Regions from separate parts of the Homo sapiens genome. Here region 2 is linked to region 1. The links come from fine-mapping of genetic effects on gene expression. A gene starts in region 1. The other region holds a variant in brackets. All regions are shown on one strand. Distances are from middle to middle.

The links. PIP is the estimated chance that this variant, and not a neighbour inherited with it, causes the effect. A credible set is the group of variants that fine-mapping cannot tell apart.
Region 2: its variant is the best candidate, but not a certain one, in a credible set for the expression of JUP in whole blood (INTERVAL, PIP 0.56).

Annotation. Positions count from the first base shown.
Region 1 is chr17:41,783,727-41,789,092 of GRCh38, reverse strand. JUP (junction plakoglobin) reads left to right here and starts at 2,382. Exons shown (of 14, transcript NM_002230.4): 1 at 2,382-2,505. RefSeq lists silencers at 2,414-2,713, 2,878-3,090.
Region 2 is chr17:41,758,767-41,764,132 of GRCh38, reverse strand. JUP (junction plakoglobin) reads left to right here. Exons shown (of 14, transcript NM_002230.4): 8 at 812-1,150; 9 at 5,263-5,366. Among named protein-coding and RNA genes, the nearest start is that of JUP, 25 kb to the left of the region's middle. The variant T/A (reference allele first, on the strand shown) is at 1,961.

The DNA of each region.
Region 1 (5,366 bases):
TAAGCTGGAGGATGGAGAGTTGAGGAAACAGGCAAAGGGCGGTGGCCCTGGTTATGGGATGGCCACTAGTTCAGGGATGTCCGTATCTCCCTGGCCCTGCTTTTGGATGGCGCAACTTCAGAAGGGAGAATGTTCAGCTACCATTCTTTTCTCTGGTGGGGAAAGTGGTCAAGGTTGCTGCTAAGGTACCTTCATCCAGCCCATCCTGTGTGCTAGCTTTGGGGCTGTAGAGCTTTGTTGATGGGGGACCCTTTTCTAAACCACCACTCCTCCAAAACCCACCCACACACGCTGCTTCTGCTTATCCTTCTATGAGCTCTTTGAAGGTTGGGATCATTTTTATTTCCTGTGTCACCAGGTTTTATTTTCTGTGTTCACCAGTGCCTAACATACAGTTGACAATGAATACTCAAGTGTTGAATGAAGGAATGTTTGTAGGGCCCTTGGCACACCATACAGCCACGAGCAGCATTCATGTCATCAACCACAGAAAGGAAGTGCCCTTGTCTTCTTAAGCTGCCTGTGAGAAGTCCTTTTTATTTTTTTGAGACAGAGTCTCACTCTGTCACCCAGGCTGGAGTGCAATGGCATGATCTCAGCTCACTGCAACCTCTGCCTCCCGGGTTCACGCCATTCTCCTGCCTCAGCCTCCCGAGTAGCTGGCATTACAGGTGCCCGCTGCCATGCCTGGCTAATTTCTGTATTTTCAGTAGAGATGGGGTTTCACCATGTCGGCCAGGCTGGTCTCGAACTCCTGACCTCAAGTGATCTGCCCACCTTGGCCTCCCAAATTGCTGGGATTACAGGCATGAGCCACCACGCCTGGCCGAGAAGTTCTCTCTGATCTCTACCCCAGGCTCTCCTATCGCAGAGGGGTGTGCTGCCCGGTTTATTTTTTTCTTTTCTTTTTTTTTTTTTTGTTTGAGATGGAGTCTCGCTCTGTCATGCCCAGGCTGGAGTGCAGTGACATGGTCTCGGCTCACTGCAACCTCCGCCTCCCAGGTTCAAGCAATTCTCCTGCCTCAGTCTCCCAGGCAGCTGGGATTATAGTTGCCCGCCACCACGCTCGGCTAACTTTTTGTATTTTTTGTAGAGATGGGGCTTCACCATATTGGCCAGGCTGGTGTTGAACTCCCGACCTCAGGTGATCCACCCGCCTTTGCCTCCCAAAATGCTGAGATTACAGGAGTGAGCCACTGCGCCTGGCCTGCCCCGTTTCTTTCATGCCAGGGCTGGATTTCCTTCAGATCTGCTGCTTGATGTTTCCAAGCCCACCAAAGCCTCCTGACACCAATACTGTATTTTTGTGCCAATTAATTGTTCTGTCTCTCCTCCAAGTGTTTGTGCCTTTTCTCTGCCCCTTCCCCATTGCCTTGACATTTTATGTCTATGCTCCTCTTCCATGAGGGGAACAGCTGGTTTGATGGTCCTTCAAATGAGAGGAAGGAGGTTCTAGCTTGGGGTGTGCCACTTTGTAGTTTTGTGACTTCTCTGAACTTCGGTTTCTTCATCTTTACAATGAGGGTCGTTTTCTCATCCTAACTATTTTTCAGAGCTGTCACAATAATTAAAAAAAAACATACCGTTAATTTAAATTTCTAACCTTTAGCAGTTTCTGAGTGCTTTCACAAACCTGACCTCATTTAATCCCCACATACTCCAGTGAGGTAGATATGGCTAATGTATCCAGTTTACAGAAGAGGAGAAACAGGGTGAAGTAACTTGCCTAAAATCATACCAAGTGGGAGAAGACCAAACCTGGCCTTCTAATTCTAAATCCCAGGAGTACTCCATCTTTCGGGAAAAAAATCCCACCCCAGCACAAAGCCTATGAAATGCTATACAAATATGTGATTACTACTTTGGGGCAAGGATGAATAAGCCCAAAGAAGCATCATGCCTGACGCTGAGTTGGCTGGCCGGTGAAGGCGTCTGTCCCTTCCCTTGGTATCCCTATGACTTACCTGTTGGACAGGTAGGGGGAAGGGGAGAGTAATGAGTCTCACCTGCTCAGAGCAAGGGTGGGGCAAGACACACCCCATCCCTTCCATTGGTTTTTTCCTTAGTCTTACTGACAGAGCCTTGTCCAATCAGGAGGAAGTAACTTTCTATCTGCCAATAGATGCAATGTTAGGATGAGACCTCAAGTTAGAGTCCATCCCTAGAGCCGACTGGCAGTCCCCGGGGCCAATGGCAAGCGGATAAACAGAGGCGGCCGTGGAAGAGGACTGGAGGCGAGGCTCCGCCCCTCCACGGGACAGTCAGGCGAGATAGCCAGTGAGCTCGCACCAGAGGGTGGGCGTCTCCCCCAGGGGCGGAGCTTCGAGGTGGCGAGGGGCGTGGCTTGGCTGTCAGGTCTCTTCGCCTTTTGTTCGGTTACTGAGTTGCTGCCTTGGCCAGAGTCCGGAGCAGCCGCCGCCCGACCACGCCGAGCTCAGTTCGCTGTCCGCGCCGGCTCCCACCCCGGCCCGACCCCGACCCGGCCCGGTCAGGCCCCATACTCAGGTGCGGGCTATCGGGGGCGCAGGTATCGTTGGGGACAGAGGGGTGGCGAGCGGCCGCGGGGCCGGTCCCAGCCGTCCCTGGGCAGGTGAGGGCCGGTGCCATCGAGCGCCACCCTGCACCGGCGGCAGGGGGCGCGCTGGGGTCCTGGGCGCGGCGACTTGGGGGTCGCGCGGTTCGGGCCGAGCGCGCCTCGGAGCTCCGCGAACCAGAGATCTGAGCAAGGCGGGGAGGGATCCGGACAGGTGCCTCCGGGGTCGCGCCTCCCCCGGGGCCCGCGCAGCTCGCCCGACGCCGCGTCCCTGACTCTCGCCCTGGGCTGGCGGGGGAGACTTTGCTCTGCTTCGACTGCGTCCCAGGGCTCACGCTGCAGTCAGGAATTTACCGTTTGGGGAACTTGCTGCCGCTGGTCTCTTTGGGGCCACCCTCACCCCACCCCACGCGTCATCCTCGCTTTCCCTCCCTCCCTACTCCCCCAGGCCTGGGTGGGGCCCTATTGTTTGCGCCCAGCTTGCCCAACTGTGGGGGCCGAGCGCACATTTTCCCAGCGACTCTGGCCCCACCTGCCGAGCAGGTGAGCGCACGGAGTCCAGAGGCCCTGCCCTCCAGCTCCCAGAGCCTCGTCGATACTACCTGCGGCGCCTCCCTCCACGCCGGTGGGAGCCCGGCTCTGGCTTCTTCAGCGGAGGTGGGATGGAGTGACTGGGGGGTGCAGGGCTCGGCTCAGTGTCCAGCTGGTGTCTGGCACCCGTGGCTCGCCCTGGGGTCTGGGGGGTGGGGTCTGTGCACGGATGAAGAATTCAGGGTCACCTGGCCCAGTTTCCAGTAGCTGTGGCTGCCAGAGTGTTGGTAGGGGAACAGGACCCGTCTTCTCTAACCTCTTATTGTTGGAAAAAATCACCCAAAACAAACTTTGCAGGAGGAAGTATTCACAGCAGCTTTATCTGGGGGTTTTCCCGTCTCCTTGCCCAAAACTTCCTTTAGGCTTAGGGGGTCCTTCCTGGTGCAAAACCCCTTCCCCCAGCCGGCCCCTGGCTGAACCTGGGCCGGTGCCTGGGCTCCGACCCTGTCTTCCCTGCCCCCACATTCATCCTGTTCGCTGGGCCCCAGGGGCCTGAGGTAGGGGCCGGGGTGGGGGGTGGAAAGTGCTGAGAGGGGAAGCAGCTTCTTCCTTCTCTTCCTGCCTCCTGGGACCACCACACCCCCTCAGACAAGGCCTGCGTAAGTGGTTGTCTCTCAAGCTCTGCCCCCTCCCCAGGAATGGGGGTGGGGCAGGGCTGGGCCAAACTGAGGAAGGTGGGGGGAGTGGTTGTTCTTGTCTTTTTTTTTTTGCCTCTACCCCATCCCCCACATTACTTAGCTGGCTGGTTATTGAGGCAGAAGCGCATGAGGCTGTGGGACTTGCCTTCCATTTGATTTCTGAATTGTGAAGGTGCATGCTTTCTGGAGGCCTGCACAGACCTTTCCCACCCGCTTTCCTGAAAGAATTTGACAGGGAAAGTGAGACCGCAGGAAGGCTTTTTGGGGGAAGGTTTCTTCAATGCTAGACTCTCTCAGGCAGAGCTGCATCGGGCCCCCTGCCTTCCCTGCTCCCAATTTCCTGAGACCGCCCCCCCCCACCCAGAATTGGGGATCTTGATCAGGGTTTGTACCCCGGTTTAAAAAAAAAATCTGAAATGTGGTCTTTTTGCAGGATTTGGAGCCCAGCCTCGTTGGGGAACAGAGAGAGAATACAACAGTTGGGTTCTCTCTCAGTCCTGGGGGTGGGAGAAAGATTGTGGGGGGCGGGGATCGAGAGTGCTTGGAGGGGAAGAGTCTACCACCTCTTTCTTTGTTGTAGATGGGGGAGTGAGGCTGGGGGCCCAGACTCAGCCCCTTTATCCTGGGTGGGGATCACGCTCAGCCCTGTGCTAGGGGGAAGTCAGTGTGGGAACTCAGATCCTTTTCTGCCGGGGGATGGGATTCTGCACCTCTGGGGAGCAACAGGAGCAGGGAGTTTGGGCAAAAATAACCTGCTTTCCCTCTTCTCTGTGCCAAGGTGGAGGAGGGGAGGGCATTGTAATTATGTTGGCTACATGATTAGTTTAGCTAATCTGGTTTGTGGCTGTGATGAAAAGATAATACTGAGGAAGTACTGCTAGGAGGTGCTTGGTGAAAACTGGCCACTGACTGGACTGGGGGATGCGGGGGAGGAGGAGAAGGTAGGACCCAGTTAGTCATTTCTTGCTAGATCAAGCCCCAGCTTGGGTGACTTGAGCCCTCCCACCCCCACTCCACCCCTCCCTTGCACCCTGGCTCCACCCCATTCCCTCTGGAGCCTCTGTTTGGGCTGCCAGGGCCGAGGCTTTGAGAATGCAGTGCATAGGAACGAAAAAGGTCGGGCTAGGGCTGCCAACCTTTTTCCCATCCTGGAGCCACCTTAGAGTGAGATGGGTCAATTGACTAGTCTACAGAAGGACTGTTTATTTGGAGAGATGGGACAGTGGGGCAGTTCTGAGCACAGGGCTTTGGGCTTGAACTGAGCTGGGTTTGAGACCCAGCTCTGTCTCTCATTACCTGAGCCTCAGTGACCTCTTTGGCAAAATGGGAATACTAATACCTATCTACCCAGTAAGTACTTGACAAACGGTAACTCAAGATCAAGGTAAGACTTTACAGAAACCAAGCACTTTCTTTTTTTTTTTTTTTTTTTTTTTTGAGATGGAGTCTCGCTCTGTCACCCAGGCTCACTGCAACCTCCGCCTCCTGGGTTCAAGTGATTCTCCTGCCTCAGCCTCCTGAGTAGCCAGGATTACAGGCGTGTGCCACCACCCCCGGCTGATTTTTGTATTTTTAGTAGAGACAGGGTTTCACCATGTTGCGCA
Region 2 (5,366 bases), 25 kb after region 1:
TTCCAACAACCATTCCCCAGGCCTCCCCTAGCAATATGCTGTTTATCAAGTGCTCACCCTGTGCTGGCCCTCTGCGTGGCATTTGTGGACAGTAGCTCATTCAACCTGGGGTTAGAGTGTGGGACCCTGTGGGTTAGATGAAGACACTGAGGCTCGGGGAGCTAATGGCCATGGTCACAGGTAGTAAATGGCAGAACTGGGATTTGAACCCAGGACTGTCCGTCCCCAAAGCTGGGGTTTTTCTGTTCCACCACAAGGCCCACGTGTCTCCCTGGGAGAAGTGAGATAGACGTCTGAGGTAGTGATTTTACTGGAAATGGATTTGGCTCAGGGCCCCAGGGTGGTGGGGCAGCAGTGAAGGCCCAGAAAGGTGACAAGCGAGTAGACATGGCTCAGCTGGGCCACTGAATCATGCGGCCCCCTCAACAATTGCCTCCTGGTCTCGAGGCCTCCCTTGGCCACCGTACTTTGGCCTGAGGAGGGTTCTGCCTGGGTCTGAGGGCCCCAGGGAAAGGCTGATGAGTTGGAGGGAAGAGATGTGGGGCTTAGAGCCAAGCCTGGGTTCAGATCCAGCCACTAGCTGTGTGTCTGTGGGCAAGTTCCCCAACCTCTCTGAGCCTCATTGCCTCACTTGCACCACAGGATAGTAACGCCCTCTCACAGGGTGTGGCGGGTCATAGGGATGAAAGTTCCCGGGCACACACAGGCAGGGCTGACCCCTTTAGGTCATCCCACTCCCCTTGGACATATTCGAGAAGGCTCCCTGGAGTTGGCTGCTCCCTGACTCCCCCGTCCCTTCCTTGCCCTCCAGGAGGGCCTGGAGAGTGTGCTGAAGATTCTGGTGAATCAGCTGAGTGTGGATGACGTCAACGTCCTCACCTGTGCCACGGGCACACTCTCCAACCTGACATGCAACAACAGCAAGAACAAGACGCTGGTGACACAGAACAGCGGTGTGGAGGCTCTCATCCATGCCATCCTGCGTGCTGGTGACAAGGACGACATCACGGAGCCTGCCGTCTGCGCTCTGCGCCACCTCACTAGCCGCCACCCTGAGGCCGAGATGGCCCAGAACTCTGTGCGTCTCAACTATGGCATCCCAGCCATCGTGAAGCTGCTCAACCAGCCCAACCAGTGGCCACTGGTCAAGGTACTGCTGTTAGGCGAGGGGAAGGAGCTCCCTGCAGCAGGCTTAGGTGCTGTATTGGTATAGGCAAAGCCGCTGTAGCAAAGAAGCCCTAAATACAGTGGCTCGAATAAGACAGAAGTTTATTTCTCTCTCGTGTAATAGTTTAGACCTCAACAATGGCTCTGCTCTAAAATTCCAGAATTGGGATTTCTATCTTGTAGCTCTACCAGCCCCTAGGGCAGAGCTCAGAGTTCAAAATGCACATGAGTACCCTGGGTGGTTTCATTAAATTGCAGGTTCCAGGGCCAGGCACGGTGGCTCATGCCTGTAATCCCAACACTTTGGGAGGCAAAGGTAGGAGGATTGCTTGAGGCCAGGAATTTGAGACCAGCCTGGACAACATAGCAAGACCTGTCTCGACAACAATAACAACAACAGAAATTAGCCAGGTGTGGTGGTGCACGCCTGTGGTCCCAGCTACTGGGGAGGGGAGGCTCAGGTCGGAGGATCGCTTGAGCACAGGAGTTGGAGGTTACAGTGAGCTATGATTGCATCAGTGCACTCCAGCCTGGGTGACAGAGCAAGAACCCGTGTCTTAAAAGAAAAGAAAAACAGGAGGCTGGGTGCAGTGGCTCACATCTGTAGTTCCAGCACTTTGGGAGGTGCAGGCAGAGGCGGAAGCGGAAGGATCACTTGAGGCCAGGAGTTTGAGACCATCGTGGGTAACATAGTGAGACACCCATCTCTTACAAAAAATTTGGAAAAAAAAAAAAGCCCAAACAAATAAACAATCTAAAACACACACACACACACACACACACACACACTCTC[T/A]CTCTCTCTCTCTCTCTCTCTCTCTCTCTCTCTCTCTCTCTCTCTCTCTGTCTCTCTGCAGGCCTGCTGCAGAGGGCTTGCCATTCTGTATGTCTTTTTTTTGTTGTTTTGAGACAATGTCTATTGCCCAGGCTGGAGTGCAGTGGTACATTCTTGGCTCACTGCAACCTCTGCTTCCCGGGTTCAAGTGATTCTCCTGCCTTGGCCTCCTGAGTAGTTGGGATTACAGGTGCACGCCACCATGTCTGGATAATTTTTGTATTTTTAGTAGAGATGGGATTTTGCCATGTTGCTCAGACTGATCTTGAACTCCTGAACTCAAGTGATCCACCAGCCTCAGCCTCCCAAAGTACGGGGATTACAGGTGTGAGACACCAGGCCCGGACAATTCTGTATTTCTTCTTTTTTTTTTTTTTTTTGAGACGGAGTTTTGCTCTTATTGCCCAGGCTGGAGTGCAATGGTGCGATCTCGGCTTACTGCAACCTCCGCCTCCCGGGTTCAAGCGATTCTCCTGCATTTTTTAGTAGAGACGGGATTTCTCTATGTTGGTTAGGCTGGTCTTGAACTCCTGACTTCTGGTGATCCACCCACTTTGGCCTTCCAAAGTGCTAGGATTACAGGTGTGAGCCACTGCACCTGGCCCAATTCTGTATTTTTAACAAGCTCGCAGGTGCTGCTCCATGGAGCACATTTCTTATGCCACTGGGTGTAGACGAGAGGGTTGTCCTCACACGAATGAGTGGACTGTATCATCCCCACGGATGTGTTCTAGCCCTGAGAACTGGGGATGGCTAGCGGCCACCAGAAAGTGGCACACATCACTCCTGCTCACACCCCAGAACTTGGTCATTCAGCCACATCAAGGTGCAAGGAGGTTAGGAAGTGTGATCACCAGCCAGATGGCCGTGTGTCCTGCTGAAAATCAGGAGAGCCACTACAGAGACACAGGGCACAGAGGATTCTGGGGACGCTTAGCATCTCCCATAGGGAGTTGGGTGTGTGAAGGAGTGGGGTCTTCTTCTTGAGGCTACCTGGGTGGAAGAGAGCTAGCTGTGTGTCACTTCCCTGTCAGGTGGGGGAAGTGAGAGTGGGTCAGGGTGTGGGCAGACCCAAGGGACAGAGTTATGGGGGAAAGCGTTTGTGTGTGTGTATATCTATATGTAGAGACAAGGAAGGCAGCCAAAGGCAAGGTGGCATCTGGTGCCAGAGAGTGAGGAAGCTACCATCGATGAGGGTCTTGTCAACGGGCACAGGAGCCAGCTGGCAGGGGCATCCGCCAGCTACATTTAAGACAATTTAATAGTACAGACAGGCCAGGCGCAGTGGCTCACGCCTGTAATCCCAGCACTTTGGGAGGACGGGGCGGGAGGATTACCTGAAGTTAGGAGTTCGAGACCAGCCTGGCCAACATAGTAAGTCCCCGCCTCCACAAAAAATACAAAAATTAGCTGGCCATGGTGGCATGTGCCTGTAATCTCAGCTACTCGGAAGGCTGAGGCAGAAGAATTACTTGAACCCGGAAGGCAGAGGTTGCAGTGAGCTGAGATCGCTCATTGCACTCCAGCCTGGGTGACAGAGAGAGACTCCGTCTTGGAAAACAAAAACAAAAAACATGGCCAGGCGTGGTGGCTCACGCCTGTAATCCTAGCACTTTGGGAGGCCGAGGCGTGTGGATCACGAGGTCAGGAGATCGAGACCATCCTGGCTAACACGGTGAAACCCCATCTCTACTAAAAAAATACAAAGAAATTAGCCAGGCGTGGTGGCGGGCGCCTGTGGTCCCAGCTACTCAGGAGGCTGAGGCAGGAGAATGGTGTGAACCCGGGAGGCGGAGCTTGCAGTGAGCTGAGATCGCGCCACTGCACTCCAGCCTGGGCGACAGAGCGAGACTCCGTCTCAAAAAAAACAAACAAAAAAACAAACAAACAAAAAAAACCCAGTGCAGATAAGAATGACTCTAAGTGATTCTACACATTGAATTATTATTTTTTATTATTATTATTATTTTTGAGACAGATTCTTGCTCTGTTGCCCAGGCTGGAGTGCAGTGGCATGATCTCAGCTCACTGCAACCTCCGCCTCCCAGGTTCAAGCAATTCCCGGCTAATTTCTGTATTTTTAGTAGAGACGTGGTTTCACCATGTTGGCCAGGCTGGTCTCGAACTCCTGACCTAAAGTGATCTGCCTGCCTTGGCCTCCCAAAGTGCTAGGATTACAGGCGTGAGCCACTGCGCCCGGCCTATACATTGAATTAAAAAAAGAAAATTCATGTTTAGAAAAAAAAATGTCATTGTGACCCCTCCTTGATGCTTGGTCCCTGCTGCAAACCTGAGGTGGGACTTTGCATCCTAACCCAGCAGCTAAGTGGCAAGTGACTTTGGCAAGTCATTTGCCCTGTGCTCACGTCCCCATCTCACATGATTTTCATCCCTGTCCTCCTGGCGTCTTGTTTTGAGGATGAAATAGATGACACCTTGAGAGGCTCTGGGAGGCCAGAGTGGCTCCTCTGAGTCAAAGACCCTGGGGAGGAGATCTCAGGACACCTCTTTCCAGAGCTGCCCTGCTGGGGATTAATGACAATGTGAGCACCACCCAAGCAGGAGGCTTCGGGGGCACCTAGAGCACAGAATTCCTGAGAATCAGGCTTGGAGGACTATCAGAAAAGCAAGCAAGGTCATGGTGTCTGTGGGGGGTGGTTAAGAAAGAGGGGACAGGGTGAGGGGCCAGGCATGGGGCTGGCAGGATGTTCTGGAATGGGGTGTCATTTTAGCAAGGGCTATTAGAATTAGCCATGAGCAGCCGGACGTGGTAGCCCACACCTGTAATCCCAGCACTTTAGAAGGCAGAAGCAGGCGGATCACCTGAGGTCAGGGGTTCGAGGCCAGCCTGCCCAACATGGCGAAACCCCGTCTCTACTAAAAATACAAAAAATTAGCTGGGCATGGTGGCAGGCACCTGTAATCGCAGCTACTCAGGAGGCTGAGGCAGGAGAATCGCTTGAACCCAGGAGGTGGAGGTTGCAGTGAGGTGAGATTGCACCACTGCACTCCAGCCTGGGTGACAAGAGCGAAACTCTGTCTCAAAAAAAAAAAAAAAAAAGAATTAGCCATGAGCACTCCCAGATCCTGTGGATTAAGTGACATGGCTGGGATGGTCTCCTTCTCTGGATATTTTCCAGTATGTCTGTGTCTGGCCTCGGGGACAGAAGAGGTGAAGGAGGGAAGGGATACTTGAAGCTGGGAAGCTGGGATCCTTCAGATGTCCAAGAAGTGCCCCTGATCACTGCCCCTTTTTTTGCCAGGCAACCATCGGCTTGATCAGGAATCTGGCCCTGTGCCCAGCCAACCATGCCCCGCTGCAGGAGGCAGCGGTCATCCCCCGCCTCGTCCAACTGCTGGTGAAGGC